Linked DNA regions of Homo sapiens: all the other regions are linked to region 1. A link means that fine-mapping ties the variant in region 1 to the expression of a gene that starts in the linked region. Tissue or cell type: thyroid. Region 1 holds a variant in brackets; each other region holds the start of a gene. All regions are shown on one strand. Distances are from middle to middle.

Region 1 (8,000 bases):
AGTTTGGAAAACCACACCACAAGCCTTCTGTGAATGGAGTCCCTGGAAACCGGGGAGAGGTACCATGTTTGGGATGACACCAGGGTGGAGTCAAAGGACTATTTGCAAAATTTCAAGAGAACGCCAAAAGCTGACCAGAAGCTGGAAGCAAGAGCCAGCAGGGACCACAAGCACTTAAGTTCTTCCTCATGAAATCCTAGAGAAGGTGTTGGATCTCGCATAGAGCCTCAAATGAGGGTCTATCATCCAAGATGGGGACATATTTTTTAAATTAAAAATTATAAAACAAAACAAAAGAAACAAATGAGGGTCTACAGCTGGCCTTAACTAGAGCCGAAGAGGCCAGGAGACCTGGCACTGGTTCAGAGCTCAGCACCTGGTAGAGTATCAGCAACTGTGGGCTGGCTGCAGGAGGAAGGAGAAAGAACAAGCACGGGCAGAGTCCAGAGGAAGGAGTCCACAGACGCTTGGGAGTAAAAAGGGTGAAGGCTCAGGACTGAGGGAGGGAGAGCCATGGGAGCCAGAGCCTCCTGACAGTGGGGACCTCCGGGATACATCACAGTCCTATACCAGCTTTCCCCACATACATAGTTCCTAGGAACTGTCCAGGCCAGAGTCCTGCGGCATATCACTACAGACTTTCCTCCAACCACAGGATTTCCCTTCTCCAGTATCTCCCGAACCCCATTACTACAGCAGGCAAGCCCAGCAGGCTGTCTTATTTTTCAAAAGGTTACTTATTACCATTTGCAAAAGAAACAGAGAGGATTCTTTTTTTTTTTTGAGACAGAGTCTCGCTCTGTCACCCAGGTTGGAGTGCAGTGCCACAATCTTGGCTCATGGCAACCTCCGTCTCCCAGGTTCCAGCGATTCTCCTGCCTCAGCCTCCCCAGCAGCTGGGATCACAGGTGTGTGCCACCACACCCAGCTAATTTTTGTATTTTTAGTAGAGACGGGGTTTCGAAATGTTGGCCAGGCTGGTCTCGAACTCCTGACCTCAGGTGATCCTCCTGCCTTGGCCTCCCAAAGTGCTGGGATTACTGGTGTGAGCCACCGCACCTGGCCAACAAGGAGGGATTCTAAAAGGGCCCCCTCTTACTGTTCTCCCTCGTAGCTTCTTTTCTCACTAAACCCCTGAAGGAAGAAATAACAGCACAGTGGTGATAGTGGGGGTCTCTGTGGGTATAAAGACTTGATGCAAGAGGCTCTAGTGTTTCACCAGGGAGCTCAGGCTAAGGATCCTAGACATTCTGCTCCTAAAGGCATCCCTAAAGGAGGCCTAAGCAGGTACAGGGAGGAGACAGGATTGGGGAATGGGGGAGGTAAGGGTTGCTGCCTCACCTCAACCCCAACTAGTAATCAAGCCCCCACATAGTGAGGCCTGGGAGCAGAGAGAAGCCGGAACAAAGAAAATTGTTTTCATGGACAACTAAGTCGCTGCAGGGAAGTTTATGGTTTTATTTTTTATTTTAAAATTTTTATCTATTTATGTATTTAGACACCAGGTTATGAGACTGACTAATTTTTGTATTTTTTGGTAGAGACGGAGTTTCGCCGTGTCATCCAGGCTCGTCCCAAACTCCTGGGATCAAGTGATCCACCCACTTGGCCTCCCAAAGTGCTGAGATTACAGGCATGAGCCATCGCGCCCAGGCGCTTTTTTTTAATTTAAATGTAGACAAAGCCATAAGTGTATCCCTTTCAAATGTCATTATTAGATTCAGCCTTTTTCCCAAACCTGTAGAGATAATTTTACAGACCCCGTTACTCATCAGTGCTCTCTCTCAGCAACACGCTGCCTGCCAATTGGTTAACTAAGACTATTATTAGTCTTTATCCAAGACTTTGATTGAAGTGTTAGCCAGGGCAGAGCCCTGTGGCATATCATGAGAGACTTTCCTCCTGGTGCTTTTGCTAATCAGGCCTCTATCAATCCACCCAATTATCTGTTCTACAGCCCTCTCTCTGTTCGCATGGTATCATGAGGGACTGAAAAGGCTCTCTGAGAACTGAAAGACCCTTGAAAGTGGAGAGCTCTTCATTGCTGTACAGGAGTAAAACAGAATCAGTGCAGTGTCCCTGCGCCTGAAGCCTCTGACTCCCCACCACTCTGCACCTGAATGTCTGCATATTAGCAGCAATCTCGGCAACTGGCTCATAGACCCAGAGAGATCTCCAGTGCCCCCCACCACCCTGAGACAGACAGACAGACAGACACGTACACACAGACGTGCCTCTGTGAGGGCCCCTACCGCATCCTCCTCGTCCACAGCAGCCTCGTGCTCCAGAAGCAGACGCACAGCCTGCTCGTGCCCTGCACCTGCAGCCCAGTGCAGGGCCACCCTGCCCACCTGCCCGGAGGGAGATGACACTTGTCAGGTGCTGCTGCCACCTGGCTGCCTGGACCACCTCCCACACCCTCCCCCAGGACAGCTGGTCTGCAGGCTGGAAGGGTCTTTGCTGGCTCTGGTCCCCAGCTAGCTGGGGACCCAGCCCCATTCTGCCACATGCTCCTCTCCTACATGGCAGCCAGAGCCAACATAGTAAAATGACTGGACCCATCTGTCCCCATCTAAAACTCTTCACAGTTTCTCATGGCTCTCAGGATAAACTCCTAACCTTGGGGATGATGAGGCGCTGCATGGTCTGGCACTGCCCACCACTGCTTCTCAGAAATACCAAGCAGCTTCCCACCTCTAGGCCTTTTCCTGCTGTTCCCCCTGCTGGAAAGCCCCATGTGGCCAAGGATTATCCTCCAAGTCCCTGAGAGGCACTGGAGTGCCTGGGTTCTGTCCCCTTCCTTCTCTCAGAATGGGGCTGAAGGGACCTGACCCACCACCTCATTCTCAGACCACCTTGGCAGTTCATAACGTTATCCAAATAGGCCTGAGGGAAGCTGGCCTGTGGCCCCTGTGCCCACTTCTCCCCTCTGTAGTTCTCAGCTTATGAGGGGACAATGAAAGGAAGCACTAGTTTTCTCTGTGGTCTCAGGCAAGCCACATCCCCTCTCTGGAGCCCAGCTGCTCCTTCCTACCTCAGGGCTTCTGCCCATACTATTCCCTCTGCCTGAAATATTGTCCTTCACTTGGCTCCTCAAAAATGCCACTTCTGGCAGGGTGAGGTGGCCCATGCCTGTAATCCCAGCACTTCGGGAGGCTGAGGTGGGAGGACAGCTTGAGTCCAGGAGTTTGAGACCAGCCTGGGCAACATAGCAAGACCCCTATCTCTAGAAGAAATACAAAAATTAGCTTGGCATGGTGGCACACGCCTGTAGTCTCAGCTACTCAGGAGGTTGAGATGGGAGGATCAACTGAGCCCAGGAAGGTCAAGGCTACAGTGAGCTGTGATTGCTCCACTGCACTCCAGCCTGGGTGATATGAGGTCCTGTCTCAAAAAAAAAAAAAAAGAAAAAAAGCCGACCCTCCTGCACACGCTCTTACGACAACTTATCACAGAGGGAATGAATTGTTTGTGAGATGCTTTGTGTGATGTCTGTCCTCCTCTTTTGCCCATCTGCCAGCTTCTGGCTGCTGACCTTTGACCCTGGCCCTCCTGGCTCTAACCTCTCAGATGGGTCCCAGAAGTTAAGAGTTTGACCTCTGGAATTGCCCAAGCCTGGCTTGACATCCTGGTCCTGACCTTGGGTGGGGGCCCAACCACTCTAAGCCTCAGATTCCTCGAGACAATGCAGGCCATGAGGACAGAGCCCGAGCCTCCCTCCAAGTTTACACATGCAAATGTGCCTGCCTCTAGCTCAGATAAACTATTCCCCCTGTGTACTGGCATTATCGTGACACTATCCCAGGTGCCTGGATTCAGAGAAGCTCATTACGCACGTGGTTTCTGGCCCTGGTGTTAACCCTCCTCCCAATCAGCTCCTGCATCCTGCCGACATTGTTCTGGCGGGCGGCCTCGTGGAGCTGCCTCTCCAGAGGAAGCACTGTGGGGAGAAAATGGGGTGCAGGATGAGGGGGAGGATGCCCCACACTGCAGACAGGAGAGGTAAACAACCCATTTCCACTCCTGAACATTTCTGGAGCAGGGGTCTTTCAGCTAGGAACAGGGGCAGAGCGGCACAGCCCTCCTCCCTCTCAAGGTCAGGGTCCTCCCCAGACAGGCTGCTCTTCCTCATTAACTCACCCCACAGCCACGCAACCAGGACGTGGTGAAACCCTGAAGATGGAAGAGCAGGGCGAAGCCATTTTCAGCAGCCTAAATGTGTGCCCCATTATCCAAGTTTCATGTACCCTCCCAAGAGCTGCTCTTGGGGAAGGAAATGAAATTAACTCCCTCTGGAGTCAGTAACCATCTTTTCCACGGCTCAGTCTACACAGCCAGGATTTACTGAGCCACCTACTGCGTGCCAGCGCCGGGTGAGGCCAGAGGCATGTTTACCCCACTCCTGCACATTCCGTCTCCTTGTTCCTCCACCCCTTCTTCCAACCCCTCTGTTGCCCAGGCTGGAGTGCAGTGGCGTGATCTTGTCTCACTGCAACCTCTGCCTCCCAGGTTCAAGCGATTCTCCCACCTCAGCCTCCTCGGTAGCTGGGATTACAAGTGTGTGTCACCACACCTGGTTAATTTTTGTATATTTGGTAGAGACAGGGTTTCACCAGGTTGGCCAGGCTGGTCCCCAACTCCTGACCTCAAGTGATCTGCCTGCCTCGGCCTCCCAAAGTGCTGGGATTACGGGCGTGAGCCACAGCGCCCAGCCTCTTCCAATCACTCTTGCCCAAATCCTAACCAGCTTCCACCTGCCCACGCTGAGGCTACCCTGATTTTCCTTCTCTGTGGTCTCTCTTCTCTGTGCTCCTCTCACCCCCATCGCTGCACCTTTAGCACAGAGTCTCAGATTAAA[G/A]GGAACCTCAGAGCTCCCCCTGCCAACCCCTGTCACGCACACCTGTGGGCTCAGGGTCAGACTGCATTAGTCTCTGAGCCAGGAGGACACAGGTCCAGATGATCCCCACCGGAGCCCCATGCTGCCATCATCCTGACGGCTCTTGATTGTGAGGATGTCTAGTCTCCATGGCTAGACTTCAAGTATTTTGGAGGCCCTGGCCACACTTGACCCTTCCTGATCCACCCACAGCTCACAGCAGGCCCAAAGGTGGGCACAGGAGGAACCCACAAAACTCTGCTTTTGAGCCAGGCATGGTGGCTCATGCGTGCAATCCCAGCACTTTGGGAGGCCAAGGCAGGAGGATGGCTTGAAGCCAGGAGTTCAAGACCAGCCTGGGCTAAAAAGCAAAACCTCCATCTCTACAAAAAAGTTTTTTTAAAAATTAGCCAGGTGTGGTGGCACATGCCTGTAGTCCCGGCTACTCAAGAAGCTAAGGCAAGAGGCTTGCTTGAGCCCAGGAGTTTGAGGCTGCCAATGAGCTATAATTGCACCTCTGCACTCCAGCCTGGGCAACAGAGTGAGACCCTGTCTCTAAAAAGAAAACAAAAACAGGCTGGGTGCAGTGGCTCACACCTGTAATCCCAGCTCTTTGGGAGGCCGAGGTGGATGGATCACGAGGTCAGGAGATCAAGACCATCCTCGCCAACATGGTGAAACCCCGTCTCTACTAAAGATACAAAAATTAATTGGGCATGGTGGCACACACCTGTAGTCCCAGCTACTCGGAAGGCTGAGGCAGGAGAATTGCTTCAACCTGGGAGCTGGAGGTTGCAGTGAGCCGAGATCATGCCAGTGCACTCCAGCCTAGTGACAGAGCGAGACTCCATCTCAAAAAAAAAAAAAGAAAACAGAAACAAAAAAATCTCTGCTTGTATGAGTGACACCAACAATCCCCAGACGAATAGATGCCTGTCCCCTCTCCCAAAGTGCTCACACATACTAGCACAGAGACAAATATTTGCTGGCCCTTTCCATAGTCACTGCAGGGCAAGTGACCCCATAGCCTGCATGTTTGGTCCAGTATGAATGTCTGAACCCAGCCCCTTTGTGTATCCAGGGACAGGTGACGAGTGTCTTGGTAGGGAAGGCTAAGATGCACTGAGGTGAGAGACAGGCCTGCCATGCAGTTTGTTTTTCTAGATAAATTCCACACAGTCTTCTCCAGATGAGAAAGAGGATCTTGAGCTTTCTGGGGCCTCATGGATACAACCTGTGGATCTCAGAGTTGCTACCCTGGGGGGCAATCACACAGTCCTGGGTTCAACTCTGGCTTAACCACTTCCTAGCTGTGTTAGGCAGTTTCCTCATCTGCAAAACAGGAGTGCGAGCTTCCCTACAAGGTTAATATCATGATTAGAAATGAGATATGAAAACCCCCTGGCACAGTGTCTGGCACATAATGACCACACCGCCACCACCACCACCATCATCATCACTATTATTCCTCCAAGGCAAAGGGTCAAATTCTGGTAGCCAAAGAGAGCTGCCACTTCAGATGTGAGCTTACAGAGGCCTGGGTTCTAGTACCTTCCCTGCCACTTTCCAGCAGCAGGATCCTGGGCTAGTCACATCCCCCTTGTAGGTCTGTTTCTTCCATTGTAAAACTGGGGGAGGGTGAAGAAAGAGATCTGTATAGGTCCCTTCCTGTCTGGCACCCTCTATCTTATGTGCAGCTTAGGGGGATTGGCCTGGTTTGTATTGGCAAACAGCCAGGAGTTCCAATGGGAAGCCAGCAGACACTGCATAGGGTCAGGCCAGAGAAGGTTAAGTTAGAATGAAATCAAGTCCAGTCTCATCTCTTCCATCCACCTCCCATCCGGCACCCTCTTTCTGGCCACATCCAATACCCACTGAGCTACCTGAGCCTTTGCCCATGCTGGGTCTTTGTCCAGAATTCTCTGCCACACACCCCAATGCTCCATTGGTACACATTCTTCGCAGGCCCACTCAAGTGATCCTCCGCCCCAGGCAGAACCATGTACCTAATCTTGATTGAGCATTCCCACCCCCAACACATCCCTCAGCTGAGTAGATGCAGTGTGCCAGCATTTTGGACACTATAGGTCTCAAAGGAATCCAGTGAGCTGCACTATGCGCTTTTGAGGGAAAGCCCCGGGATTCAGCTGTCAGGATTCAGCCAGGGCTGCAGGATCAAGGACTCACAGTGCAGACACCGACACAATCTTTCTCTCCCCTCTCCCAGACGGTGCAGCCAAAGCTGCCCCAGGCCAGCTGATGCCCACACAGACGCTGCTGCCCGGCCTAGAGGCCCTGGCACTGGGCGCACTCCTTGAGGGAGGTTCGGAGGTGCCCTCATTCCACCTGTGGCCAGTCAGGCTCCTCTCCTCTGAGTGCGTGCCCCATCTGATGCGGTCTCCACTCGCTATCCAGCCCCAGCATTCCGGGTGAGCTGGGCCCTTCAGCACTTCTACCACTCAATGGCTGTGTGACCTTGAACAACTCATTTGAACACCCTGTGCCTCAGTTTCTCATCTGCGAAATGAAGATAACATAATGTCCTACCCATATGGCCGCAGCGAAGATCAAATGACGTGCCTCTCCTGGGTCAAGGCCTGGCACACAAAGTACAGCACGCAGTCAAGGATCGCTATTACCTTTATTATTTGTAGCTAACCTCTCAGCCGCTGCTCCCCGCTCACCTGGCGGGTGTGGTCCCCGAGTCCCAGACGCACTGGCAAGGTCCCCTCGGCCCAGTGCGCGGACCGGTAACCATTCCGCTCGGAGCCACACAGACGCCCCACACGGAGGTGGCCGTTCGGAGGGCGCCAACCTCACCCCTGGCACTCCCCAAACGGATGCGGGGGTCCTCTCGGCCTCGGCCCGCCCCCCTCCCTCCTCCAGGCAGACTCACGGCCGTCGGTCTCCCACGCCAGCTCCTCCTGCATCCTGCCGCTCCGCAGCCCCTGCGCGCGCTGGTGCCCGGGCGCGAGGCGCGCGTCCGCCGGGGCGGGGCCCGGGGAGCCGAGAGGACGGGGCGGTCGCTCCTCCAGACTCCACGCCCCGCCTGCTAGGAGCGCAGCTGCCCCGGCCACCCCAGTCCCGGACCAGGACGCAGGTCCCTCCTCCTGCTCTCTTAACC
Region 2 (8,126 bases), 200 kb before region 1:
TAAGTTCCATAAGGAACTTAAAAAAAACTATGGGTTTATAATGTTTCCATGTTTCAAGGATGCTGCATACATCTTGTTTAGTCCTCATTAGTCCTTGAGAAGTTGATGTCCCTATTTTTATAGGTGAAGAAAAAAACTCAGGTTGTGACTTGCCCTGTGTTAGTAGGCACATATGCAAATACAGAATCTGTAAATAATGAGGATTGACTTTATTTGTTATTTGGTTATCCATAAGGTTTAAGTTCTTCAGAGTTTTTCCTCTTTTTATATGTACATTTAAGAAATATAGTCATTTTCTTGATTCCTAGAAATCAAGTTCTGTAATAGATTAGTATATCAGTCATTTGAAAGCTAAGTCTTAGAATATGTAGTTGCTGAACATCTTATTTGGAATAAAACAGAAATAAATAGTTGTTCTATAATGTTCTTATTAAGGCATGATTGGGATCAGTACCTGGTGCCATCCGATCATCCCAAAGGCAACTTCGTTCCCCAAGGATGGGTCCTTCCCCCGCTCCCCAGCAACGACATCTGGGCAACTGCTGTTAAGCTGCATTAGTAAAGATGCTCCAGGAGTGTGGTCCAGCCAGCGCTCTTTCCAGCTGTAAATATTAGCGATGGTGCCATCTTTTGCTGTAGACTAAACTGCAACTTCTAAATTCCATGTGGCATTCCCCTACCCTGAAGTTATGCTTTCCTTCTGTGCTCTGTGCTGGCCAGAGGTGCCTCTTGAATCAGATTAATGTGGTTTTTCAGGAAAGGACTTAGGTGAACTGAGGTTTTTACCACAGGCAGTGAATGACCTTGGTTCACCAAATTTGCCTCTGTTTTGAGGGGCTTGGTCCAGAGTGACTTGTTAATTTACTCTAACTTCCTTGTGTGTTGATGGGTAAGTACACTCAAACACTGAATACAGGTGTGTGATGGGTAGATTTCACAGCCCTTCTACTAATAGTGAGTGTGAAGGCAAGCTTGATGCAAAACCTCCTGACCTTTCCTACCTGAAGAGCCCTTTGACTTCTAGGAAGAAAGGTCAAAAATGTTATCTTCAGTTGTGTTAATCCCAGTTTTAGTGCAGCTTAGGAGGCTGCTAGTTAGGAAGATGGCAGTGGCTGTAGGCTGGGTTGCCAGAAAAGATGGTGGCCTAGTCTTATTATTCAGATGGAGAACTTAGAAAACCTGAAGAGTACCCAAATTGGATTGTATTTTAATGGACAATGGCTGTATTTTTTCCATGTTAGAAGGATCCTAATGAAAGCACCTGTTATTTTTAAGTTTCTAAGGGTCTAGTTGTTCAGAATCCCCAAGGATATTTCCCTAACCTCACTCAGTCACATTGTAGGAGCCAGTGTAGCTATGGAATTATCTTAGGAACTCAAGCTTCTAAAACTATCCATGTAGTCAAATCTAGGGGAAAAAGCAAATAAAAATAGTAAAATTTGGCCGGGCACAGTGGCTCACGCCTGTAATCCCAACACTTTGGGAGGCCGAGGCGGGCCGATCACGAGGTCAGGAGATCAAGGCCATCCTGGCTAACACGGTGAAACCCTGTCTCTACTAAAAATACAAAAAAATATTAGCTGGGCGTAGGTGGTGCACACCTGTAGTCCCAGCTACTGGGGAGGCTGAGGCAGGAGAATGGTGTAAAACCCAGGAGGCAGAGCTTGCAGTGAGCCGAGATCGCGCCACGGCACTCCAGCCTGGGAGACAGAGCAAGACTCCGTCTCAAAAAAAAAAAAAGTAAAATTTATTTTTTATATTCATTAATAAATGCTGTTGTGCTTGGAGATGATCACTCATATAACATGTCATTTTTTTGGTTCTGTTTTGGTTTGGTTTTTGCCAATTATTTTGTTATATTTCCAAAAAACTAAATAAAAATCATTTTTATTTTTTAGTTTGTGCCTTTGCTGCCAATTTGTTGCCTTCCAAATCACTTAACACACACTTTCACATTGATGAAACATATTTTCATTCAAAAATTCAAATTTATTAAGCAGGCATTTGTTACAGGAATTTGAATCTTAAATGCTAAACTTTATCTGCAAAATCCAAGTCTGGATTGGTAAGGATACCATCAATTTTGGAAATAATGTTACGTACTGTAGTTGGAAGCTTTTGGGTGCAAGATACTAATGGCTTTGTCCCTTTTCTGTTGTTTAATTTGCATTAATTTATACATTATATAGAGTCAACAGATAGGGAATGAGGGCCACATGTCTCCAAAATGTATGTCTACGCTTATAAATCTTAAAATCTGATATGATTACCCTCATAGAGCTCCACAATCCTGTGTGCCTTTTTGTTAGATATCTCCACCATTTGCTCTCTGATGAGATGCAGGAAGAGTAGAAATAAGGTGAATTGTACGATGTGTGTTTGGTGTCTGGACAGCCTTGCCACTAAGATATCTGCTGTGAGGGCAGGGAATGTGCTGCAGGGACTCAGGAAAACTCGGACAGCAGAACCCAAGAAGGTGGCATTTAGCCACAGATGGAGAAAAAAAAAATCCCTTTTTCCTTTGGCCCTTGCAAGGTTTTAATAAAGTGATCAGGCTGGGTGTGGTGGCTCACGCCTGTAATCCCAGCACTTTGGGAGACCAAGGTAGATGGATCACTTGAGGTCAGGAGTTCAAGACCTGCCTGGCCAACATGGTGAAACCCCATCTATACTAAAAATACAAAAATTAGTCAGGCATGGTGGCAGGCGCCTGTAATCCCAGCTACTTGGGAGGCTGAGGCAGGAGAATCACTTGAAGCCAGGAGGCGGAGGTTGCAGTGAGCTGAGATCACACCATTGCACTCCAGCCTGGGCAATAGAGCGAGACTCTGTCTCAAAACAAAGAAAATTAAAAAACAAAACAAAACATGAGCATTACTCTTGTTCGGTTTTTATTTGTAAGATTTTCCTGGTTTATTACCTGTGTGTAGTGGTGGTGGCAGTAGCCACTGGTTCTTTCAGGTTTAGAGAGACTCATGGTAGTATCTTTAATGAATTGTACTTTCAAGAATATGAGCAGTGTTATTGTAATGTTATCCCACAGTCTTTTTTTTTCTTTTTTTAACTTGGGGAAAATTTCAAATACATTCAAAAGTAAAGAGAATAGTACAATGATTTTTTTCCATGTACCCATCATCCAGCTTCAAATCATTATCAGCTTATGGCCAATCTTGTTTCATCTATACATCCTCCACTCACCCTGGATTATTTTGAAGCAAATCTCAGGCATCAAATTACTTCATCTGTAAATATTTCATTATGTAGCTTTAAGTGATTAAAAAAAAAATCTAACTACAGGGCCATTATCACATCTAAATAAAGGAGTAACAACTCCTGAATATCACAAATATCCAATCATTGTTCAAATTGCCCTCTCGTAAATGTTTTACGTTTTGTTCAAATTAGGATCTGAATAGACTCCATACACTGTTGTTTGCATCCTTGTGATGCCATGTCCCTCTGTTCTCGTATGTCCTATAATTTAGTAGTTAAACAGAGCTGTACTGTCCAATATAGTAGCCACATTCAGCTGTTGAGCACTTGAAATGTGATCTATTTGAGTTGAGATGTGCAATTACATATGTGGATCACGTTTCAATTGGATAGTGCTGATCTAGAGGCTTGATCACATTCAGATTGGAATTTTCTGGCAGGAATACTTCACAGACATAATGTGTACTTCCAGTCAGGAGGCACTGATGTCTTGGCTTTTTTTGTGATGTTAGCGGCCACTGATAAGACCCAGATTCATTCATTGATGGGGAGGGGACTCAAAAATAGTGATAGTTTAATTCTGTCATTCTTCAATTATTAACTGGAATACTTTTAAAAAGAAAAACTGTACAAAAGCATTTGTTTTTAATAAATTCGGTAAATACAGAGATTAGAAAGCTATGAGAGAAAGAGATTAGTTCTTAAATACTAAGGGTATTTAGCCCAAGTGGCTGAGTTTATGATGTCAAAGAATTTGCTGCTACAAGCCAACCAACTTAATCACTCTATAAAACCATTCATGCTCCTATGCCCATGTGACATTTGTAACAAGAAGCTTAGGCTTATGCCATCTGTTGTAGCTATTCATTTATACACGCTTTGTCTGCAGGGAAGTTCTCCTGGTAATTACAAGGTAAGTACAAAGTATATCTTATTCCATTTAAATAAGTATAATATGCAATATATGAAAGGAATGTGAACATTCTGAAATAGTAGTGATTTATGGAATAGTGATTAAATGAGACATTATCAACTAAATTTGTTTTTTGCCACCTGTTTGTCCCAGATTTTTTGTAATGCTTAGAACCTATAAGCTATTTCCATATGATGAGCTCTTTACCTTTTTGTGAATCCACATAGTAGTTCCTGGCTTCCTGTATCTGGCCACACATGAAGAGTATGTTTCCATTGCAGAGTTCATTTGCCTTTTGGAATAAATTTGGTTTTTCATAGCCTCCAAAGCAAAGATTAAGGTCTCTGAGGCAAGTGGTGTTAGAGTGCATAACTGTGTAGAACAGTGGACACTTTCCTCAGCTTTGTTAATTCATGCTGGCCACAGTCTGGATACCAGAATTTGAATTATGTTCTATGGGAAATGATTTTTTATTTACCATTTTCCAGGTACTGTGGTTAGGTGCTAGGGATGTAAGAAGGGGTGAACAGACAGGATTCCTGACCTCCTGGAGTTTAGAGTGAAGAAGCTTAATGATTATAACAGAGTCATTAGAGACAATTGTGATAAGTGCTACAAGGAAAAGTACTTATCAGCCAATTTATATATTTCATTCCAAATGTTTAAGTGCCTATTAAAGCTAAGCAAAATGCCAAATACTCCCTAACCTCATACAGAATACAGGCAATGAGGAAGGTAGATATTAACCCAATAATCATAAAAAATATGCTGAGTGCTTTGAAAGAAAGACATGGTTCTGAGATTATGAATTAGGATTTTTCTTCAAAAGCGTTCTGTGACACATTTAGTTGAAATAATAGGAAATATGTATCATATAGTAAGGGTAAGAATCATTATTCAGTTTACATATGTGTATGCTAGGAAATAAAAGTATACTATGGGTCATAGTTAAAAAAAAAAAAAAAAGGCTGGGCGCGGTGGCTCATGCCTGTAATCCCAGCACTTTGCGAGCCCAAGGCAGGTGGATCACAAGGTCACGAGTTCAAGACCAGCCTGGCCAAGATGGTGAAACCCTATCTCTATTAAAAATACAAAAATTAGCGGGCGTGGTGGCAGGTGCTTGTAATCCCAGCTACTCGGGAGGCTGAGGCAGGAGAATCTATTGAACCTGGGAGGCAGAGATTGCAGTGAGCTGAGATCGAGCCACTGCACTCTAGCCTGGGCAACAGAGCAAGACTTCATCTCAAAAAAGTAAAAAATAAAAAACTTTGTAAAGGCCACTGTGCTAGGTAGACCTGACCAAGTTTGAGAGTCAGGGCAAGCTTTTTTGAGGAAGTGATGTTTCAGCTGAGCTCTGAAGAATGAACAGCTTTTTCTTTTCTTTTCTTTTCTTTTTATTCTTGAGACAGACTCTCGCTTTGTCGCCCAGGCTGGAGTGCAGTGGCGTGATCTTGGTTCACTGCAACCTTCGCCTCCCAGGTTCAAGCAGTTCTCTCGTCTCAGTCTCCTGAGTAGCTGTGAGTACAGGCGTGTGCCACTACACCAGGCTAATTTTTGTATTTTTAGTAAAGAGGGGGTTTTGCCATGTTGGCCAGGCAGGTCTCGAACTCCTGACCTCAAGTGATTTGCCCACCTTGGCCTCCCAAAGTGCTGGGATTACAGATGTGAGCCATTGTGCCTGGCATTTGAGCAGCTTTTAATTAATTGTGGGGAAGCAACAGGGAAGAACTTAGCAAGTATCCAGAACAGGATATGCAAAGGTTCTGTGGGGACTGAGAGACCATGGCAGTTGAAGGCTAGCATGACTGGAGTAAGATGGGAGGAGAGGAAACGGGCCAGACACTGCAAGCCTTCAGAAGTTTAATTTTTATTTTGAAAACAGCCAGGAACCATTGAAGAGTTTTAAGTAGGAGAGTGCCTTAGTTTTGTTTCGTTTTGTTTTCTAAAGAAGGGGTCTTGCTATGTTACCCAGGCTGGTCTTTAACTCACGGGCTCCAGCAATCCTCCCACCTCTGCCTCCCAAAGTGTTGGGATTACAGGCATGAGCCACCGTGCCCAGCCAGGAGTGGCTTAGTTTTGGTTTTGAAATGGTCATTCTTGCCTCAGTGTGTGGAACAGAATTATAATAATAAAGCATGTGAGGATACATGGAGATGAGTGGTCCAGGTGAGAGATAATGGGGGCTTGGATTCCCATGGAAGCAGTGGAGTTAGCCTGAAATGGCTGGATTCCAGAGATTTAGGAGATAAAAATTCACAGGAAATTTGAGATGGTGGTGGTAAAGGAGAGGAAAGTATCAGAGATGAGTACTCGTGCACCTGGCTCAATGTTACCATTCCTTGAGACAAGGAACCCTGGGGGCGAGGAGCAGTTTGGGGAAGGGAAAAATCAGTTCACTTTGATACGTTGAGTTTGAGAAGTCTTGAGACACTGTGTAGGCAGTTGTGTTTATGAGTTTGATCTCAGAAGAGAACTGGAGAATTTAATTTGTGAATCATTGGCAGGTAATTGAAGCTCTGGGCAAGAATAAAGTCATTTAGAGAGTATAGTGAAGACCTTTGGAAACAATACTAATGTCATTGCCTGGGCCCCACTTAAATCAATCAGTGCCACCTTCACCCATCCCACTCCCCATCCCCATGCCCAGATCCAAGCACATGGGCACCACCTCATGGGCTAGTGTTTGAGAGGTCCTGGCTTACAGTTTGTCCAAGCATGCACAGCCTGGCTTTCCTAACATTCCCACATCCCTACTCCATTCCACCACCTCAGGCCTCTTCCACACTTTGCCCACTACCTGCTGAATGGAGTCAGCACTCAGCCTGAAGTTCATAGTTCTCCCCAGCTCTACCCCAGTCTACCCTTTCAATTTTACTTCGTACTGCTTCCCAGCACAGACCATCTGCTTAAGTCCAGCAACTTGTCACTTCTCTCCACCCTGCAGATTCCTCTGCTCTCTTGCTCACAGGCTGTTCTTTCACCTTCCAGGGTCAAGGCCAAGTCCCATCTACTTCCTGAAGCTTCTCCAATGCCCATAAGGACTAGACCACTCCCCTTCCTTTGGAGAATATTATTACATAATGATCTGTACCTCTCATGTTGTACCTAGTGAGGTGACCCTCATTTTAGAATACTTTCTAACTAGGCAATATCGATATCTTTACTGTAGCCCTTGCCATTCTTAAGAGATATAGGGCCAGGCGTGGTGGCAGGCGCCTGTAGTCCCAGCTACTCAGGAGGCTGAGGCAGGAGAACCGCTTGAACCCGGGGGACGGAGCTTGCAGTGAGCCCAGATCACGCCACTGCACTCCAACCTGGGTGACAGAGCAAGACTCTGCCTAAAAAAGAAAAAAAAAAGAGATATAGGCTGGGCATGGTGGCTCACACCTGCAATCTCAGCACTTTGGGAAGTCAAGTCGGGTGGATCACCTGAGATCAGGAGTTCGAGACCAGCCTGACCAGTATGGCGAAACCCCACCTCTACTACAGATACAAAAATTAGCCAGGCGTGGTGGTGGGTGCCTGTAATCCCAGCTACTCAGGAGGCTGAGACAGGAGAATCGCTTGAACCTGGGAGGCAGACGTTGCCGTGAGCCTAGAAGATTGCACTACTGCACTCCAGCCTGGGAGACAGAGCGAGAGTCCGTCTCAAAAAAGAAAAAAATAGATATGTTCCCCAAATCCTCAGTATCCTAGAAGCAAGTGTAGGGCTGAGTAGAAAATACCTATTAGGATGCAGATGCTGGGCGGAAGATGGAGAGAAGGGTGCCCTATACCTGCTAAGTGGACAGATAGTCTCAATAGAACTGTGTCCCTTCCTTGGAGATAGCTCAAAATTCAGATGATACCTGAAAATGTGAATAATAAATCTGAGAATGCCAAAACTTGCTGAACTTTCCTGTGTCTCCTATAACACCCTTGTACCTCAAAGGTCCCCTGTAAGAACTGGCTGATGGGGCAGATAATTTACTGGTTACAGTGGGACCTTCCTGATTCTGTA
Region 3 (8,126 bases), 220 kb before region 1:
TTTAGAGGGCTCAGAAGACAGGAAAATGTGGGAAAGTTTGGAACTCCCTAGAGACTTGTTGAACGGCTTTGACCAAAATGCTGATAATGATATGGACAATGAAATCCAGGCTGAGGTGGTCTCAGATGGAGATGAGAAACTCATTAGGAACTGGTGCAAGGGGGACTCTTGTTATGTTTTAGCAAAGAGACTGGCAGCATTTTGCTTCTGCCTTAGAGATTTGTGGAACTTTGAACTTAGGAGAGATGACTTAGGGTATCTGGCAGAAGAAATTTTTAAGCAGCAAAGCATTCAATAAGTGACTTGGGTGCTGTTAAAGGCATCAAGTTTTAAAAGGGAAATAGAACATAAAAGTTCAAAAAATGTGCAGCCTGACAATGCCATAGAAAAGAAAATCCCATTTTCGGAGGAGAAATTCAAGCCAGCTGCAGAAATTTGCATAAGTAACGAGGAGTTGAATGTTAATCTCCAAGACAATAGGGAAAATGTCTCCAGGGCATGTCAGAGATCTTTGCGGCAGCCCCTCCCAACACAGGCCCAGAGGCCTAGGAGGAAAAAATGGTTTCATGACCCAGGCCCAGGGTCCCGCTGCTGTGTGCAGTCTAGGGACTTGGTGCCCTGTGTCCCAGCCACTCCAGTCGTGACTAAAAGGGGCCAAGGTACAGCTTGGGCTGTGGCTTCAGAGGGTGCAAGCCCCAAGCCTTCACAGCTTCCACATGGTGTTGAGCCTGCGGGTGCGCAAAAGTCAAGAATTGAGGTCTGGGGCCGGGTGCACTGGCTCACGCCTGTAATCCCAGCATTCCAAATGATTGTGAGGCCTCCCTAGCCATGTGGAACTGTAAATCCATTAAACCTTTTTCCTGTATAAATTACCCAGTCTCAGGTATGTCTTTATTAGCAGCATGAAAACAGACTAATACAGAGGGTCCTTGGATCTTGTGCAAGAAAGATTTCAGGGCAAGTCCACAGTGCAAAGCAAAAGCAAGTTTATTAAGAAAGTAAAGTGGTGAAAGAATATCTACTCCATAGACAGTAGGGCGTTCCTGAAAGTAAGAGGAGAAACGTGTCCACCCTAGGTAGAATGCTTGCTTATATATAGGATAAAAAAAGATCATGGGGAGATGTGCTCTGCCACAAGGGTTTGTGATAAAGGATTAATTTTTTAAATTACTATATTTTACAAGAATCAACATTATTATCTTTAAAGCAAAATTAGGAATGCTTCTATTCTCAAAATATCGGGATCTCAGGACACTCCTAAGTACGGGTCTGTTTAGTAAATGTTATTAGTCTGTTCCCTTAACCATAAACATCTAGAGGCTAGGAATACCTAACTTCCTGGGAATGCAGCCAAGCAAGTCCCAGCTTCACTTTTCCTAGCCCTCACTCAAGATGGAGTCACTCTGGTTCAAATGCCTCTGACAATACTGTACTACAGTTTTACAAGATGTTACCCTTAGGGGAAACTGGGTAAAGGGTACACAGAATCTCCCTGTATTACTACTTCTCATATTCCATATGAATCTACAATTGTCTCAAAATAGTTTAATTTTAAAAATCTAATCAGGTGGCACAGGCTTCTCTTTACCTCTTGTTTAAAACCAATAGTTTCCCACTGGTCACAGTGGCTCACGCCTGTAATCCCAGCACTTTGGGAGGCTGAGGCAGGCAGATCACCTGAGATCAGGAGTTCGAGACCAACCTCAACAGGGAGAAACCACGTCTCTATTAAAAATACAAAATTAGTCGGGCATGGTGGTGTGTGCCTGTAATCCCAGCTACTCAGGAGTCTGAGGCAGGAGAATTGCTTGAACCTGGGAGGTGGCGGTTGTGGTTAGCCGAGATCGCGCCATTGCACTCCAGCCTGGGCAACAAGAGTGAGACTTGGTCTCAAAACAACAACAACAACAACAAAATAGTTTCCCATTGTTCATAAGATATGAGACCCCAGACATTAGGACTTCACTTCACCAGGATCACCAGACTCCTCTCAGAGCTCCATCCATAACTCGCATTCTTTTTTTTTTTTGGAGACAAGGTCTCGCTCTGTCTCCCAGACTGGAGTTCAGTGGTGTGATCTCGGCTCACTGCAACCTCCACGTCCTGGGTTAAAGCAATTCTCCTGCCTCAGCCTCCCCAGTAGCTGGGATTACGGGCACGCACCACCACACCTGGCTAATTTTTGTGTTTTAGTAGAGACAGGAATTCACCATATTGCCCAGGCTGGCCTTGAACTCCTGAGCTCAGGCAATCCACCCGCCTCGGCCTCCCAAAGTGCTGGGATTACAGGCCAAAACTGGCATTCTATCAGGCTTCCCACTAGACATAGTCCTGTAACCTAAGGCAGGTCCAGTTCCCTGCAGCTTGCAAATTCAAATAACAAGTAAGAGAATGGTAAAAAGAAAGTGACTGCCACGGGCACGGTGGCTCACGCCTGTAATCCCAACATGATCCAAGGCAGGCGGATCATGAGGTCAGGAGATCGAGACCATCCTGGCTAACATGGTGAAACCCCATCTCCACTAAAAATACAAAAAAATTAGCCAGGCATGGTGGTGGGCACCTGTAATCCCAGCTACTCGGGAGGCTGAGGCAGAAGAATGGCATGAACCCAGGAGGCAGAGCTTACAATGAGCCAAGATCACGCCACTGCACTCCAGCCTGGGCGACACAGGGAGACTCTGTCTCATAAAAAAAAAAAAAGAAAGAAAGTGGCCAGGTGTGGTGGCTCACACCTGTAACCCCAGCACTTTGGGAGGCCAAGGTGGACGGATCACCTGATGTAAGGAGTTTACGACCAGCCTAGCCAGCATTGTGAAACCCCCTCTCTACTAAAAACACAAAAATTAGCCAGGCGTGGCAGCAGGGGTCTATAATCCCAGCAACTGACTAGGGAGGCTGAGGCACCAAGAATAACTGGAACCTGGGATGCAGTGGTTGCAGTGAGTGGAGAGTGCGTCATTGCACTCCAGCCTGGGTGACAGAGGGACTCTGTCTCAAAAAAAGTGGGGGGTGCACGGGACTTGGTTGACCTGGATGGCATGCAAGGGGTGGGGAGGGACCAAGGAGGTGCTGGGTCTATGGGACTTGCTCCTATGTATCCATCAGTGATCTGGTTGGCGCCATGGAGGCTGGGGCGAAGGCGGAGGGGGGGTGGGGGGTAGCGGGGAGCTAGGTTGTAAATTGACAGTTGTCCCCAGGCAATCCCCTGGTATGGGAAAGTTCCAGAGGTCCCTGGTTTAAGCTTCGGTCCTTGGAACTAATAAGCGAACACATAATTAGATAAGCTTACAGTGTAGAGAGTGTCTGGTGGAGAGAAGGTAAAGGTTAATTGGATTTTTTTTTTTGACAGGTGTCATTCTGTCGCCCAGGGTGGAGTGCAGTGGCGTTATCGTGGCTCATTGCAGTCTTTACCTCCCAGGGCTCAGGTGATCCTCCCACCTCAGCCTCCCCAATGGCTGGGACTACAGGCCGATCTCGCCTGCCTCGGCCTCCCAAAGTGCTGGGATTACAGACGTGAGCCACAGCACCCACCCTATAATTGCATTCCTAAAGAGCTAAATAGGAGGTGGGGTGAAAGGAGAAAAGTAAAAATAATTCATTTTTCTAAGAAAATGGGTAGTTGGTCACACTCCTATTTACTAGGGCCTTTGCACATGTTCTCATCTGCACTGTGCTTCCCTCTCTTTTTCTATTTAACTATTTATCTTCCAGATCTCAGCTGCAGCCGCAGTTTCTTAGGATAACCTTCTCCAACTTCTCGAAGATACTCACCATGATTAATTGATTAGTGTGTTATACTAGGCAGATAGTTCCACGAAGAGAAGCTCTGTATCTCTCAGTCTCACTGTATGCGGAGTGGGTAGCTCTGCACCTAGGATGCTCAATAAGAACGGTATTTATGAACTGAACGACAGAAGGTTGAACGACTGCCCACTTATGCACTGAGCCTTCCGGAGGGACGAGTCTACAGGGGTCGCGCGTCGTAACGACGTCACTTCCGTCGGAAGGTTCTCATGAGGAGCCACTCAGATTCCTGTCACTTCTCAAAGCATCTCCGTCGTGAACATGGCCCTGCCACCATTCTTCGGCCAGGGTCGCCCAGGCCCACCGCCCCCGCAGCCGCCGCCTCCTGCTCCTTTCGGCTGTCCGCCACCGCCGCTGCCCTCCCCGGCTTTCCCGCCGCCTCTCCCCCAGCGGCCCGGCCCTTTTCCGGGGGCCTCCGCCCCCTTCCTTCAGCCTCCGCTGGCTCTGCAGCCCCGAGCCTCCGCGGAGGCCTCCCGCGGCGGAGGCGGCGCTGGCGCCTTCTACCCGGTGCCACCACCGCCGCTGCCTCCTCCGCCGCCCCAGTGTCGGCCCTTCCCGGGGACCGACGCCGGCGAGCGGCCGCGGCCACCGCCTCCCGGCCCGGGGCCGCCCTGGAGCCCGCGGTGGCCTGAGGCGCCGCCGCCGCCGGCCGACGTGCTCGGGGATGCGGCCCTCCAACGCCTGCGCGACCGGCAGTGGCTGGAGGCGGTGTTCGGGACCCCGCGGCGGGCAGGCTGTCCGGTGCCCCAGCGCACGCATGCCGGGCCCAGCCTTGGCGAAGTGCGCGCGCGATTGCTCCGGGCTCTGCGCCTGGTGCGGCGGCTGCGCGGCCTGAGCCAGGCCCTGCGCGAGGCCGAAGCCGACGGCGCGGCCTGGGTCCTGCTGTACTCCCAGACCGCGCCGCTGCGCGCGGAACTGGCCGAGCGGCTACAGCCGTTGACCCAGGCTGCCTATGTGGGCGAGGCGCGGAGGAGGCTGGAGAGGGTCCGGCGCCGCCGGCTGCGGCTTCGCGAGAGGGCCCGGGAACGCGAGGCCGAGCGGGAGGCAGAGGCCGCGCGGGCAGTGGAACGCGAGCAGGAGATTGACCGCTGGAGGGTGAAGTGTGTGCAGGAGGTGGAGGAGAAGAAGCGGGTGAGAGCAGCGGCCGCTCATGGGGGTAGGAGTGGTGGTGGTTGGAACCTGGAGCAGCAGGAGGCTTTAAACTTCCATTTCCCAGGGCTAAGCCTCTGTTTTACGCGCAAAATGAAGCGATAGCTAACCTTCCCAGCTCATACCACCATGTTAATTTTGTGTTAATGATGTGTGGTACACAAAAGTTCCAGGTGCACTGTAAAATCCTGTAAACACAAAGTATAGGATTACACGGTGGCACTGCACGAATGACAGGTCTCCCCTATCCTGCTCCAACATTGTCCACTTACTCTCAAAACCAGTAAGTGTCTAGTTCCTTGTGTCTTGTACTGCCCTAGGTGGTTTTAAGAATACAAAATACAGGCCGGGCGCGGTGGCCCACGCCTGTAATCCCAGCACTTTGGGAGGCGGAGGCGGGTGGATCACGAGGTCAGGAGTTCAAGACCAGCCTGGCCAAGATGGTGAAACCCCGTCTCTACTAAAAATACAAAAATTAGCCATGCGTGGTGGCGGGCGCCTGTAATCCCAGCTACTCTGGAGGCGGAGGTTGCAGTGAGCCGAGATCGCACCACTGCATTCCAGCCTGGGCGACAGAGCAAGACTCCGTCTCAAAAAAAAAAAAAATAGAGAACTTGGGGACCCTACCTCAAGGAATATATATACTCTAATTAGCTGATGGGGCAATAGTGATTTCCCTAGGATTCTTTTGTTTACAAGTTTTAAACCATGTATCCCCAGGTTCAGCAATGGTGTTTCGGAGCATTTACTATATATATATATATATATACACATACATACATATATATACACATACATATATGTATGTGTATATATATGTATGTATGTGTATGTGTGTATATATATGTATGTATCTGTGTATATATAGAGAGAGGTGTGCTAAGGTCATTACATATACCAGATTTTGAATCTTTATAACAGCCTTGAGAAGTAGGAAGTATTATGCTAATTTTACAGGTTAGGAAGTTGCATAGAGAGGTTAACTTGCCAACAGTCACACAACGAGTTTGTGGCAGTTTCCCATATTTGATCCCAAGTTGTCTAATTCCAAAGCGTATTGATCTCAGACTCTTTAAGCAGGGCCAGGGTAAAACTGGAAATTGTTCAGATGGTTTTCTAAGGCATTTTCTTTCTTTCTTTTTTTGAGATGGAGTTTCGCTCTTGTTGCCCAGGCTGGAGTGCAATGGCATGATCTTGGTTCACCACAACCTCCACCTCCCGGGTTCAAGCGATTCTCCTGCCTCAGCCTCCCGAGTAGCAGGGATTACAGGCATGCACCACTACACCCCAGCTAATTTTGTATTTTTAGTAGAGACAGGGTTTCTCCATGTTGGTCAGACTGGTCTCGAACTCCTGACCTCAGGTGATCCACCCGCCTCAGCCTGCCAAAGTGCTGGGATTACAGGCGTGAGCCACTGCACCTGGCCGTCTAAGGCATTTTCATTACCTTTGATTGCCTCTGGGGTTCCCTTTCCTCTTCCTCATTATTTCTATTATTATTACATTATAATACATAATGAAATAATTATACAACTCACCATAATGTGGAAACAGTGAGAGCCCTGAGATTGTTTTCCTGCAACTAGACAGTCCCATCTGGGGGTGATAGGAGACAGTGACAAATCATCAGGCTTTAGATTCTCATAAGGAGCCCACAACCTAGATCCCTTCCATGCGCAGTTCACTTCTTTGTGCTCCTATGAGAATGTAATGCTGCTGTTGCTGATCTGACAGGAGGCGGAGCTCAGGTGGTAATGCAAGCAATGGGGGAGTGGCTGTAAATGGAGATGAAGCTTCACTTGCTCGCCTGCCTCATCTTTTGCTGTGTGATCTGGTTCCTAACAGGCCATGGACTGGTTACCATCCGTGGCCTGGGGTTTGTTGACCCCTGGCTTAGAGATCTGTGGGAGATCATGTCAGTATAGCGTGGTGTGTGTTAGGAATTCAACTATAGGTGCTGTAAAAGCCCAAAGAAGGAACATCTGATTTACTGAGGGAATGCTTCCCAAATGATACAATGACACGTAAGCTGAGTCTTTTTTTTTTTTTCTGAGACAGAGTCTCGCACTGTTGCCCGGACTGAAGTGCAGTGATGCCGTCTTGGCTCGCTGCAACCTCTGCCTCCCAGGTTCAAGCGATTCTCCTGCCTTAGCCTCCAGAGTAGCTGGGATTACAGGTGCACACCACCACTCCTGGCTATAAGCTGAGTCTTAAAGGAAAAGTCACCCAGGTGAAGGTAATAGGTGCAGTTCCAGGGAAACAGAGTAATCCAAATGGAGAAGTGAAACAGCTTGGTGTTGGCTGTAGCTGTAGTGGTGGAATTACAGGCACTTATTTGACAGATGGGGGAGAGCACTTTAGGCAAGAGGATTCTCTCCACCACCCATGGTGAACTTTTTATTTTATTTATTTTATTGTTTTAAGGAGACAGGGTTGGGGCTGGGCGCCGTGGTCATGCCTGTAATCCCAACACTTTGAGAGGCCAAGGCGGGCGGATCACCTGAGGTCAGGAGTTCGGGACCAGCCTGGCCAACGTGGTGAAACCCTGTCCCTACTAAAAATACAAAAAATTAGCTGGGCATGGTGGCAGGAGCCTGTAAACCCAGCTAATTGGGAGGCTGAAGCAGGGAATCGCTTGAACCCAGGAGGCGGAGGTTGCAGTAAGCCGAGATCGCGCCATTGCCCTCCAGCCTGGACAACAGCGAGACTCCATCTCAAAAAAAAAAAAAAAAAAAAAAAGAGGGTTGGGGGCGGGTGCGAAGTGGCTCACTCCTGTAATCCCAGCATTTTGGGAGGCTGAGGCAGGCAGATTACTTGAGCCCAGGAGTTCCAGACCAGCCTGGGCAACATGGAGAAACCTCGTCTCTACAAAAAACACAATTAACTGGGCATGGTGATGCTGTGATCACACCACTACACTCCAGCCTGGGCAACAGAATGAGACCCTGTCTCAAAAAAAAAAAAAAAAAAAAAAAAAATACAAAGTTTCACTCTGTTGCCCAGGCTGGAGTGCAGCGGGTTTGTCATAGCCTGTAGGTTTGAACTCCTGGTCTTAAAGTGATCCTCTCGCCTTAGCCTCCTGAGTAGGAATAGCTAGGGACACATGCCATTATGCCCAGCTTCCATGGTGAGGATATTGGTGACAGAGTCTTATGAGGAGTGGCTTGAGG

Evidence for each region. PIP is the estimated chance that this variant, and not a neighbour inherited with it, causes the effect.
Region 2: it holds the start of UBAP1L, and the variant in region 1 is fine-mapped to the expression of UBAP1L in thyroid (GTEx, PIP above 0.99). The same link has a PIP of 0.9 or more in whole blood.
Region 3: it holds the start of PDCD7, and the variant in region 1 is fine-mapped to the expression of PDCD7 in thyroid (GTEx, PIP 0.95).

What each region holds. Positions count from the first base shown.
Region 1 is chr15:64,911,737-64,919,736 of GRCh38, reverse strand. It overlaps ANKDD1A (ankyrin repeat and death domain containing 1A), which reads right to left and starts at 7,835. Exons shown (of 15, transcript NM_182703.6): 1 at 7,773-7,835; 2 at 3,837-3,940; 3 at 2,223-2,351. The coding sequence starts at 7,806. RefSeq lists enhancers at 3,872-4,372, 7,080-7,623 and a silencer at 7,810-7,989. The variant G/A (reference allele first, on the strand shown) is at 4,859.
Region 2 is chr15:65,111,150-65,119,275 of GRCh38, reverse strand. It overlaps UBAP1L (ubiquitin associated protein 1 like), which reads left to right and starts at 4,076. Exons shown (of 6, transcript NM_001163692.2): 1 at 4,076-4,126. PDCD7 (programmed cell death 7) reads left to right here. Exons shown (of 5, transcript NM_005707.2): 5 at 436-1,897. The coding sequence ends at 559.
Region 3 is chr15:65,129,724-65,137,849 of GRCh38, reverse strand. It overlaps PDCD7 (programmed cell death 7), which reads left to right and starts at 4,042. Exons shown (of 5, transcript NM_005707.2): 1 at 4,042-4,938. The coding sequence starts at 4,069. RefSeq lists an enhancer at 3,757-3,856 and silencers at 4,147-4,356, 4,417-4,816.